3 linked regions of the Homo sapiens genome follow. The protein of the gene in region 2 interacts with the protein of the main gene of each other region in a pairwise test. Each region holds a gene or a part of one and is shown on either strand. Other genes may lie near its edges.

Region 1 (3,653 bases), on a different chromosome or scaffold from region 2:
GGACACCAAATGCAGAAAGTACACAAGAGAAAAATACCTGCGCTCCAGGTACATTTGCTTCCAAATTCTGCCAATATCGTTTAGACTCTTGAGCAATAGCATCATGTGAGATACCTGGGGAATGTACAAGCCTTCCTTTAAATTATATCTATAAGAACAACAGCCCACCAATCTGGGTGCAGTCAGACGTGGAGAACCTTCAGCTTCCAATCTATTCTCATACCTCCTAATCCATCAGCAAGGATGAATACCACGTTTCTCTTTTTTGAAATGGAATATACACAAATACAGCTCTTTGTGCCTTCTGAGGAATCTTTCCTCCCAACAATTGCATGTATCAACTTGTATCAGTAATTAATGACATGAGAACACACTCAAAATAGGCAACTCTAAAAATCAAAAGTTTGAAGCTCAGGACAAAATCAATAGCGTCACCACATCTGGTTGATGGAGAAGGGGAGGTCTCCAAATTCCTTTTTGTTTTTTTTTTTTTTGAGACAGTCTCATGTTATCACCCAGACTGGAGCGTAGTGTTGTGATCCTGGCCCACTGCAACCTCTGCCTCCCAGGTTTAAGCAATTCTCATGCCTCAGCCTCCCAAGTAGCTGGTATTACAGGCGCCCACCACCACGCCCGATTAATTTTTGTATTTTTTGTAGAGATGGGGATTTTGCCGTACTGGCCAGACTGGTCTTGAACTCCTGACCTCAAGTGATCCATCTGCCTCAGCCTCCCAAAGTAGTGGGATTACAGGCATGAGCCACCACGCCAGGCCCAAATTACTGTTTCATTAAACCCTGTCTGCTCTTGAGGAGACATACTTCTCAGTCGCACTCAAACCTACCTGTTTCATTTTGCATTATCCAGACTTTCAGTTCCACAAGACTATGGGCATAAAAGCACTCATCTTCCCTTAAACAGCCATACCGAACTTCATGTCGACATAAATCAAGCTGACACTGACCATGAAAAGAACGTATTTTGGAGTATTTTACTGTTGTCTCTCGCAAAATGTGGACAAGGCACCTAAGATGAAAACAGTGACATTTTAATATTGTTCTGCCATAGATTTTTCAAATATATATATATATATATATATATATATATATATATATATATATATATATATATATATAAAGTTCTACACTGACAATACATTTAAAATTTTTTTTTCTCTTTTTTTTTTTTGAGATGGAGTCTCACTCTATCGCCCAGGCTGGAGTGCAGTGGCGCGATCTCGGCTCACTGCAAGCTCCGCCTTCCGGGTTCACACCATTCTCCTGCCTCAGCCTCCTAAGTAGTTGGGACTACAGGCGCCCACCACCACGCCCAGCTAATTTTTAATAGAGACGGGGTTTCACCGTGTTAGCCAGGATGGTCTCAATCTCCTGACCTCGTGATCCGCCTGCCTCGGCCTCCCAAAGTGCTAGGATTATAGGCGTGAGCCATGGAGCCCAGCCCTACATTTTAAATTTTTATCGGAAAAAAAATCATGGGGGCTGGGCACAGTGGCTCACACCTGTAATCTCAGCACTTTGCGAGGCCAAGACGGGTGGATCACCTGAGGTCAAGAGTTCGAAACCAGCCTGGCCAACATGTTGAAACCCTGTTGCTACTAAAAATACAAAAAATTGTCCAGGCGTGATGGCTCACTCCTATAATCCCAGCACTTTGGGAGGCCAAGGCGGGTGGATCACTTGAGGTCAGGAGTTCAAGACCAGCCCAGCCAACATGGTAAAACCCTGTCTCTACTAAAAATGCAAAAATTAGACGGGTGTGGTGGCACGTGCCTGTAATCCTAGCTACTGGAGAGGCTGAGGCAGGAGAATCGCTTGAACTCGGGAGGCGGAGGTTGCAGTGAGCTGAGATCGCGCCACTGCACTCCAGCCTGGGAAACAGAAAAAGACTTCGTCTCAAAAAAATTAAAAAATACAAAAAATTAGCCAGGCCTAGTGGTGGGTGTCTGTAATCCCAGCTACTCGAGAGGCTGAGGCAGGAGATTCACTTGAATCTGGGAGGCAGAACTTGCAGTGAGCCAAGATCATGCCACTGCACTTCAGCCTGGGTGACAGAGCGAGACTCTGTCTCAAAAAAAACAAACAAAAAAACCAAATCACTACATGCAATTGTTGAATTAATTGGGGGGGGTACTTATATTTTAAGCCATAAAATACCTAAATCCATGTCATGAGAAACTATACATCAATAATGCTTTTCTGTTTTACATAATATATTTAGTTAATTATTCACTTTCCAGCCAAATCTACTAAAAGACATTTTAAAATTTTGTCATTGTTCTTCAAAATAACAACATAACGATGAAAGGGCAATGCCTGGACAGACATTACTACTAGTTTTTATTCAGATCTAGAAAAAGAATCTATTTTGTCATTACAGAAATTAGAAACTATCAACATACTTATTGTCTTCAAACTCATGCTTTGTAACCGGGTGAGAACAAGCAGTAGAATTATCTTTATTTCTTTTACTTATCATTCTAGGCTTATGATCAAAACATTTCTGGAATAGAGAGAGAAAGATTATCAAAAAAAATACAAAATATAAATTTTGTACCCAGAATATTGTCCTAGTTTCAATATCATTACAAAATTAATATTCAATATGAAGTTTTAATATTCTTTTTGGTAACAGTAATAGCCAACATTTACTGAATGAATGTTTTATCACATGGGAGGACCAGAGGAATATTTTATTCATAAATATGATATTATTTATCATATAAATAAATGAATATTTATTCATTTACCAAGTGAATGTTTTATCACATGGCAGGACAATACCACTGGGCTTGCAAATTCAACTTTACAGTGGAAAATAAGTTTTGGAGAACACACCTCACAAAGGAATATAAATTCCCCAAGATGCTCCTGGAGAAGTTTGAACACAGTAAGGTTAATCTTTCCATTGCCGCCAAAGAAAGCCTCCCGGCTGAATGCTCCTTTCCGCTCCAGTGTCCACACATCTATCTCCTCTTGGCAATAAGCAAACGTGCAGTGGCCTGAATATCTACATTCCTCCTCAGCAGCAACATCTAGAAAGACAGGGAATGGACAGACATTGAAAACATGGCAATTGGCCTGTACTCCCAGCTACTTGGGAGGCTGAGGTGGGAGGATCCCTTGAGCCCAGGAGTTCAAGGCTGCGGTGAGCAATGATCTTGCCACTGCACTCCAGCCTGGGCAACAGAGCAAGTCCCAGTGTCAAAATAAACAAACAAACAAAAAAAGATGGTAATTGTTTCCTTAAAGCCAATGAATATAAATAACATTTAGGGCATCATTTGAACTTGTCTAACAATTCATGGACAGCCTCAAACAATGATATGCATATTATCTGGGGATGGATCGTATCAACTCTAAAAAAGAGAAGTACCACAAGCCTTAATTATTTTTATCACAGACTGTGAGAAGAGCCTTGATTCTCTCATGGACCACACCTCAGCTGAAAAAAAAAAAAATCATTTAGGGACATTCTAAGCTCATTCACACAAACTTGTTTGACAAACATGAAAATACCAAGTTCTCTCAAAAGCATCTTAAACACTTTTCAAAGCCTTAGCTCAGTGTTTTGATTCTGTTTAGAGAGAACTTAAGGTTTGAGACAGTCTTCTGTTTAAAATCTGGTCATAGGCC
Region 2 (3,653 bases):
GGCCACCTAAAGTGCTGGGATTACAGGCATGAACCACCGTGCCTGGCCCCCGTTGTTCTTTATTTATGTTATAGGCTGTGGGTACTCCCAGCTTTACCTTTATTCACATTTTTCCTTTAGAAAAGTTTGTGTTACTTTTTGCCTGAAGAATAATCTATGTTTTATTCTTCCATCAAAGCCTACCTCATCAAGTATGTTTTCTGAGTACTTTCTAGCCTGAGATATTTCACTGAATTCCTAATGTGATATACATTTGATTATATACCATCTTTTTATTCTATTTTATTACAAAATTTTAGATATCCAGAAGATAATGAGGGCCTACTGCGATGGTGCACGCCTTGTAATCTCAGCACTTTGTGGGGCTGAGGTGGGAGGATTGCTTGAGCCCAGCAGTGGGAGGTTTCAGTGAGCTATGATTGTGCCACTGCACTCTATCCTGGATGACAAAGTGAGACCCTGTCTCAAAGAAACAAAAATAAAAATAAAAACAAAACAAAAAGAAAAAAGAACAGAGCCTAATTTAATAGATACTTAGGTATTACCATCCAGTTTAAGAAATATTAATAAAAATATTACCAATACATTTGAAGCCACCATGTGTATTTCTTCTCAATTACACTCCCTTCCCATCCCCCAAAAGGTAATCACTGACATGAATTGGATATTTGTCCTTCCCATACATGCCTTTATATTTTTAGTATGTTACATATATATGTGTGTGTGTATGTGTGTGTGTGTATGTATGTGTGTGTATATATATATGTATGTATGTACACATATCAACACATAATGTTAGGCATGGGTATTAGGCCTGGCCTTGTCACTGACTTTGAAATTTGCTTCTTTGGGCATCTTCTTCTCCTCTGGGAGTTGGAGATTCCAGTGTGTAGCCCAGTTCAAGAATCATGACTCAGAGACCTAGATGATTTTTAAGGCACCTCTCACCCTCATATTCATTGATTTGGTCTCCTTAACAAGGTTTGTGTTAAACATAGGCAATAGATGTGGTCACCCATGTCACCAACTTGAGGTACCAGAGTAGTTTTTAGATTCCTTAGATTTCGTTAACATACTTGTCACTGAGGTCTTCAGAAGTCCTTTTTTTTCTTTTTAACTTTTTTTTTTTTTTTGAGATTGGGTCTTACTCTATCGCCCTGGCTGGAGTGCAGTGGCACAATCATGGCTCACTGCAGCCTTGACCTCCCTGTGCTCAGGTGATCCTCTCACCTCAGCCTCCCTGATTAGCTGGGACCACAAGCACGCACCACCATACCTAATTTTTTTTTTTTTTAATTTGTAGAGATGAGGTCTTGCCATGTTGCCCAAGCTGGCCAAAGTCGTTATTAAAAGGATTTCCCTCTGGGAAGGGAAATTCATTAAATCATAGATCCCCAACCATTTTGGCACCAGGGACCAGTCTCGTGGGAAACAATTTTTGCACAGATGGTTTGGTTGGGGGCGAAATGGTTTCAGGATGAAACTTCCACCTCAGATCATCAGGCAATAGTTAGATTATCATAAGGAGCGTGCAACCTAGATTCCTTGCATGCACAGCACAATAGGGTTCGCACTCCTATGAGAATCTAATGCTACTGATGATCTGACAGGAGCTGGAGCCCAGAGCAAGGGCGGTAATGCTCGCGTATAGCTCACCTCCTGCTGTGTTGCCTGGTTCCTAACAGGCCATGGACCAGTACTGGTCCACTGTATTGTGCTGTAAAGGAGTTGGGGACTCCTTTATTAAATGATCATTAATTAGCATTTTGGTTAGATGGAATTTGTTGGATTTATTTTATTATTTTATTATTTTTTTTGAGGTGGAATCTTGCTCTGTTGCCCAGGCTGGAGTGCAGTGGCACAATCTCGGCTCACTGCGAGCTCCGCCTCCCAGGTTCACGCCATTATCCTGCCTCACCCTCCTGAGTAGCTGGGACTGCAGGCGCCTGCCACCACACCAGGTTAACTTTTTTGTATTTTTAGTAGAGATGGGGTTTTACCGTGTTAGCCAGGATGGTCTCGATCTCATGACCTCGTGATCCACCCGCCTTGGCCTCCCAAAGTGCTGGGATTACAGGCTTGAGTTACCGCGCAGCCGAATTTATTGGATTTTTTATAGGGGAACTGCTAGCTGAGAGAAAAATGACCACATAATAGTCCAGCTTTGATAGGTAGAAAGGTAAATGACCAGAAAACATGGGCTCTTCACCAGGTGGAACCTTCATAGAAGGGAGGTGGGTCTCTATGATAGACAGGTGGGCAGCATGAAAATATATTTAATACTTGTCAAAGAGAGGACAGAATATCACTGCTGGAGTGAGACACTTTACCAGATAGGCTTGTTCCTCAAATAGGTTATAGTGTTAGTAGTTATTTAAAATGTGTAATTCGTTGATTAAGGTATGGTTGGAGGGCAGGTTAGCATTGAACAATGAAAACACTAAAAGGATAGTAAAAGAATAAGCTATTGAAGCATACTTACTCTCAAGACAGGTGAGTTCTTTAATTTAAGCTATAGTTGGATTCTGTGGCAATTTTTTATTATTATTTTTAATAGTGTGAAAGGGTAGTTTGGGGGAAATAAAATTGAAGGTTGAAGTCATATGTTAGGGGTCCTTCACGCAAATGGAAAGCTAGAAAACACTAATTTCATAAGGGCAAATGAGTGTTTGGATGGATTACCCATCAGAAAACAGATTATTATGGAAAGAAAAAGCAAAGGGATCGGGTTGAGAATATAGAGGAGTTAAGCAGAAAGTACTCATGAATTCTTCAGCATGAAGAGCCCACATCAACTTGTAGCATCTGTAGCCCGGATCTCAGGCCAGGAATTAGGAATGGAGAGAGATAGCAGATAACTCTCAGCGCTTATGAATGGAAGTGGGTGAGAGAAAGCAACACACCAGTTAAGTAGATAGTAGGAATATCACAAAGATATTATTGCAGGGAGAAGAGGGGTGGATGTCATTTTATGTGTATATTTCTAATTTATGTTTCCTTGGAATGTTGGAAAGTAAAATTGTGTGTATATCAGAGAGATTGACTAAATAGAGAGCTGGAGTTGTCTTTGAGAAGATGAACTCTAAGAACTCTTAAAAAAACCCCAGCAGACTCAGAGGAAGGCCCTAGGGAAAATTTCCAATTCTAGAGGTAGGCAAGTGGACAAAATATTCAAAGTAGTTAGTCCAAGGGGAAAAGAACCAACCAAACAGGAGCATCTCTGAATTAACAACTTGGTCCCTAAAGCATCTGCTGTCTTCCCTTTGGCTTTTCTTGGTTAATTTAGGGTGGCATTAACTTGATTAGGATTGCTTTAGGCCGTGCTGATGGGAATAGTCAGTTGGCTCTTCCTTCTTGGAGAGAGGGAGTGCGACAATAAAATTTGCAATACTTCCGGTAAACAAACTTCTGTTGCATGTCAACTAGAGAAACTCAGTCTTTAGTTGACTCTAGGAACACTTCAGGCCATCATATATTACTGGCTTTCAACATTTAAAAAAAAAAATTCATTGATACTGAGACTCAGTACAGACCCACACATTTACATAAATGGGAGGTAGAGGTGGGACAATTGCTTGAGCTCAGGAGATTGAGGCTGCAATGAGCCATGATTGTGTGGATGCATTCCATCCTGGGCAACAGAGCAAGACCCT
Region 3 (3,653 bases), on a different chromosome or scaffold from region 2:
ACTTGGGTATAAAGATGGGATTGTATCCTTTTCCATATCTCTTTGCCTACTTCCTGAATTCCTCCTCCAAATCCTCAAAGTCCAGAGCCAGGAGCCAGCACTCATTTGCCAGAGGGATGCAGGATCAGATGGCACCTGAACTCTGAGACTGCTCCTCTCATCCCAGAACATTGAGCTGTGGAATTTGCCAGACTTGAAAGACCAAACCCATGTGGCCTCATGTAGTGAGGTCCTGCCCAGCTGAACCTCCACTCTGTTGTCCCCGACGCCTGCTTAGGCTTCTGACTCACTCCCTGAGTCTCCCCACCTTGAAGCCCCTTCCCTCTGGGCAGCTGCAGGAAGCAGAAACTCGGCTTGAGGTTTTGACACAGGCTCTCCCAGAGATGCGCTCATGAGGCTGAGAAACGATCGTTATGCCACAGCTTTTTTTTTTTTTTTTTGAGACGGAGTCTTGCTCTGTCACCCAGGCTGGAGTGCAGTGGCATGATCTCGGCTCACCACAACCTCCAGCTCCCAAGTTCAAGTGATTCTCTTGCCTCAGCCTCCCAAGTAGTTGGGATTACAGGTGCCTACCACCACGTCTGGCTAATTTTTGTATTTTTAGTAGAGATGGGGGTTTCGCCATGTTGGTCAGGCTGGTCTCAAACTCCTGACCTCAGGTGATCCACCTGTCTCGGCCTCCCAAAGTGCTGGGATTACAGGTGCGAGCCACTGCGCCCGGCCCTACGACACGGCTTTAAACCTGCATCCCATTCCTTGGGCTGCACTTCCAGTAATGTACTAGGAATCAGAATCCTCTCTAAATCCTGTAATTATTTTATGAATAGCACACTTACACTGCATTATAATTTATGTTAAAACAATTAATTTGCTAATATAAACATATAATATATATTGTCACATGTCTTTCACTTTGTTTAGGAAGGTGTTTGTTCTCTAAAATACTGGGATCCTCAGAAAGGTAGGTGAACCAGGCCTCCCTTGGCTCTGAGAGGCCCTGGAAGGAACTGCTTCTCCAAGGATGAAGAGGTGGTGGATGACATGGAGGTCAGTGCCTTGACAATTTCCCTGGCTAGCAAGGGGTCCTGTAAGAAGGGGTCCCAGAGAATGAAGCCGAGTGTACTCCCTCTTGCTCTACACCCCAGCTTCGAGGACCTAGTTTAAGCCTGTGGGTAACTGGTCACAGAGCTCTACATTCTTAGAGGCAAAGAGGAAAGCAGAGGAGAGGCAAAGCTGCAGTTGTGTTTGGTTGGGTGCTAGCACACTGGCCAGCCGCAAGGGGAGAAAAATCATGACTCCACCTCTGAGCTGAGGGGAGCTCCTGCTGCAGGTTCCTCACCCCTGCTGCCAAACTCAAAGGCTTATGGGGCCCAGTGAGAGAGTGTGTATGTGTATGTGTGCGTGCATGTGCGCACAGGTATGTGTAGCTAGAAAGCACCTGGCTCCAGCCAGTTGTTGCCAAGTGGGGCTTTGAGCTGTGTATGGCATAAACACCTATGGCCAACAGGGCACGTGGGAGCTGAAGCCCAGCACATTCTCTGTTCACCAAGCTATGGCATGGAATTGCATATGCATAGACGGAGGGGCTCTTTTTCATTTGTTTGTTTGTTTTTGAGACAGGGTCATACTGTATTGCTGTTGTCCAGACTGGAGTGTAGTGGCGCCATCATAGCTCATTGTAATTTCAAACTCCTGGGCTCAAGCGATCCTCCTGCCTCATCCTCCTGAGTAGCTAGGACTGCAGCTATGTGGCCACCACACCTGGCTAATTTTTTGAAAGTTTTTGTAGAGATGGGGTCTCCCTATGCTGCTCAGGCTAGTCTCAAACTCCTGGCCTCAAATGATCCTACCACCTTGGCCTCCCAAAGTGTTGGGATTACAGATGTGAGCCACCATGACTTCTTTTTCTGATTTTCTTGGGCTAACAGCACCTGCCATGTTTCCCTCCCCATTGCCCACCCCCAAGTTTTTTCAAGAGAAACCAGAAAAAGAGAGCACTTGAAATCTCTCTATTTTTAAGGTTTGGCACTTGATACAAAATTACACACACATACATACACACACACACACACACACACGAGTGTAGGCTAAATAAAACAGCTCAGGGGCTGTAGTTGGCAGCAAGAGATAAGTGATGGAAGCCCAAGGACACCCTGGGAAGTTAGCAGAGCCTGGAGCCAGAACTTAGGGATCCCTGCAACTCATCGTATTTAGGTCATGCCACCATGCCTGCAGCACTCTCCAGCTCTTGGCAAGACCATGGGTTTCTTCTAGCTGATTACTCTCCCTGGGGGATTCTGCCTCCAGAGCTAATTCTGCCTTCAGGGCTACCACTAGTGGGGCCCAGGGCCTTCCTTGCAGCTTCATTCTGTGGATTTTGGGGAAGGGCAGGGGGAGAGTGGGTGGGGGTTGAATTTTGGCAAGGCACTGAGGGTGCTTCTGAGAGTCATCCAGGGCAGTGGGTTTGGAAGTGGGAAGAGGACCATGAGTTCCTCTGCTCTCTTAATGTGAAAGGGTAAACCAACCTGGATGGTGTCAAGTCAAGAAGGGACCCTCCAGGTCCATCCCTCCAGGGATGAAGGGAGGGGTGTGTGTGTGTGTGTGTGTGTGTGTGTGTGTGTGTGTGTGTAGGCAGGCAGGGAGCTGTGGACCCAGGGCCAACACAAAAGACTGCACTCTGCCTCCACTAGATTAAAATGGAAAGCCAAAGTTGTCTCAAGGTGTGGAAAATAAATCTTGGTGTTTTGTTTTCTTTCACAATCAAACCTAATGGGAAGCCTCCTAACCTGTGGCCCCAAAAGCGGGGCATTTTAGCCCAAGGCAATTTCTCCTCAACAGACTACCATGGGTTGTGGGGAGCAGACACAGGGAGGAAACTCTCTGAGGACTGTAGCCCCCAGGAGCTCTCCCTCCTAGCTTCGGCTGACAGTGGGGGAGGGGGAGTGGAGGCCAACTCCGGCTTCCCTATTTCCGGACCCAGCGAAGCCCCACTCTTTCCCGCCTCTTTAGCCTTTCTGAACTCGTCGGGTATGTCCCCATAAGAAGCACTTAGACCTTTTATTCCCGCGGAAGTGGAGCGCCTGCAGCCAGAGGAGCAGGGGACAGCAGGGGGCAGGATGGGGGTGAATGAGGGCTGCCCCCCACCCTCAGCAGGCCAGGCGCCGCTGGTAAGGAGCCGTCGCCCAGAGCCTGCCCCTACCCTGTCCTCGGCTGCCCAGGGCTCGCTCAGTTCTGCCTGCCCGGCTGGCTGCATGACAATGACGGCTGCAGAAGCCGAGCGCTGCGGCCGCCGAAGGGACCTGGCGCGAAACGGGCCATTAAGCCCAGAATGGCGGCAGGGTGGGGGTGGAGGTGGGGGTGGGAGTGGGACGGGGCTATTTATAGAACAAAGATCCGCGGCCGCCGGCTGCCCCAGCACAGGGATGCAGCCCTGGCCTTGCCCCACGGGCGTCCTGCGCTGGGGAGAAGGCCAAACTCCCAGGCCGCCCGGCGGCAGGGCTGGGCTTTCGGTGGAAAATGGCTGGGTCTAGGAATGGAGCGCCTGTTCCTCCCTAAACGCCGAGTCCCAGGGTCTAGAGGACAGAGCCCCAGAAATGCAGGGAGGGCGCGGCGCGGCCAAGCAGGGAAGGGAGTAGTTCCCCAAAGCGGCCACT

What was found.
Region 1: the proteins of STK3 (region 2) and ZC3H7A interact in a two-hybrid assay, tested with the Homo sapiens proteins (one large-scale study listed by BioGRID and IntAct).
Region 3: the proteins of STK3 (region 2) and GAD1 interact in binary tests that used the Homo sapiens proteins (3 or more experiments, as listed by UniProt).

The regions. Positions count from the first base shown.
Region 1 is NC_000016.10:11,762,634-11,766,286, forward strand, and holds part of ZC3H7A (zinc finger CCCH domain-containing protein 7A), read right to left. Parts: intron 3,053-3,653; coding exon 2,856-3,052; intron 2,521-2,855; coding exon 2,420-2,520; intron 1,027-2,419; coding exon 845-1,026; intron 115-844; coding exon 38-114; intron 1-37. UniProt on the Homo sapiens protein: May be a specific regulator of miRNA biogenesis. Binds to microRNAs MIR7-1, MIR16-2 and MIR29A hairpins recognizing the 3'-ATA(A/T)-5' motif in the apical loop.
Region 2 is NC_000008.11:98,819,142-98,822,794, reverse strand, and holds part of STK3 (serine/threonine-protein kinase 3), read left to right. Parts: intron 1-3,653. UniProt on the Homo sapiens protein: Stress-activated, pro-apoptotic kinase which, following caspase-cleavage, enters the nucleus and induces chromatin condensation followed by internucleosomal DNA fragmentation.
Region 3 is NC_000002.12:170,823,355-170,827,007, reverse strand, and holds part of GAD1 (glutamate decarboxylase 1), read right to left. Parts: intron 1-3,653.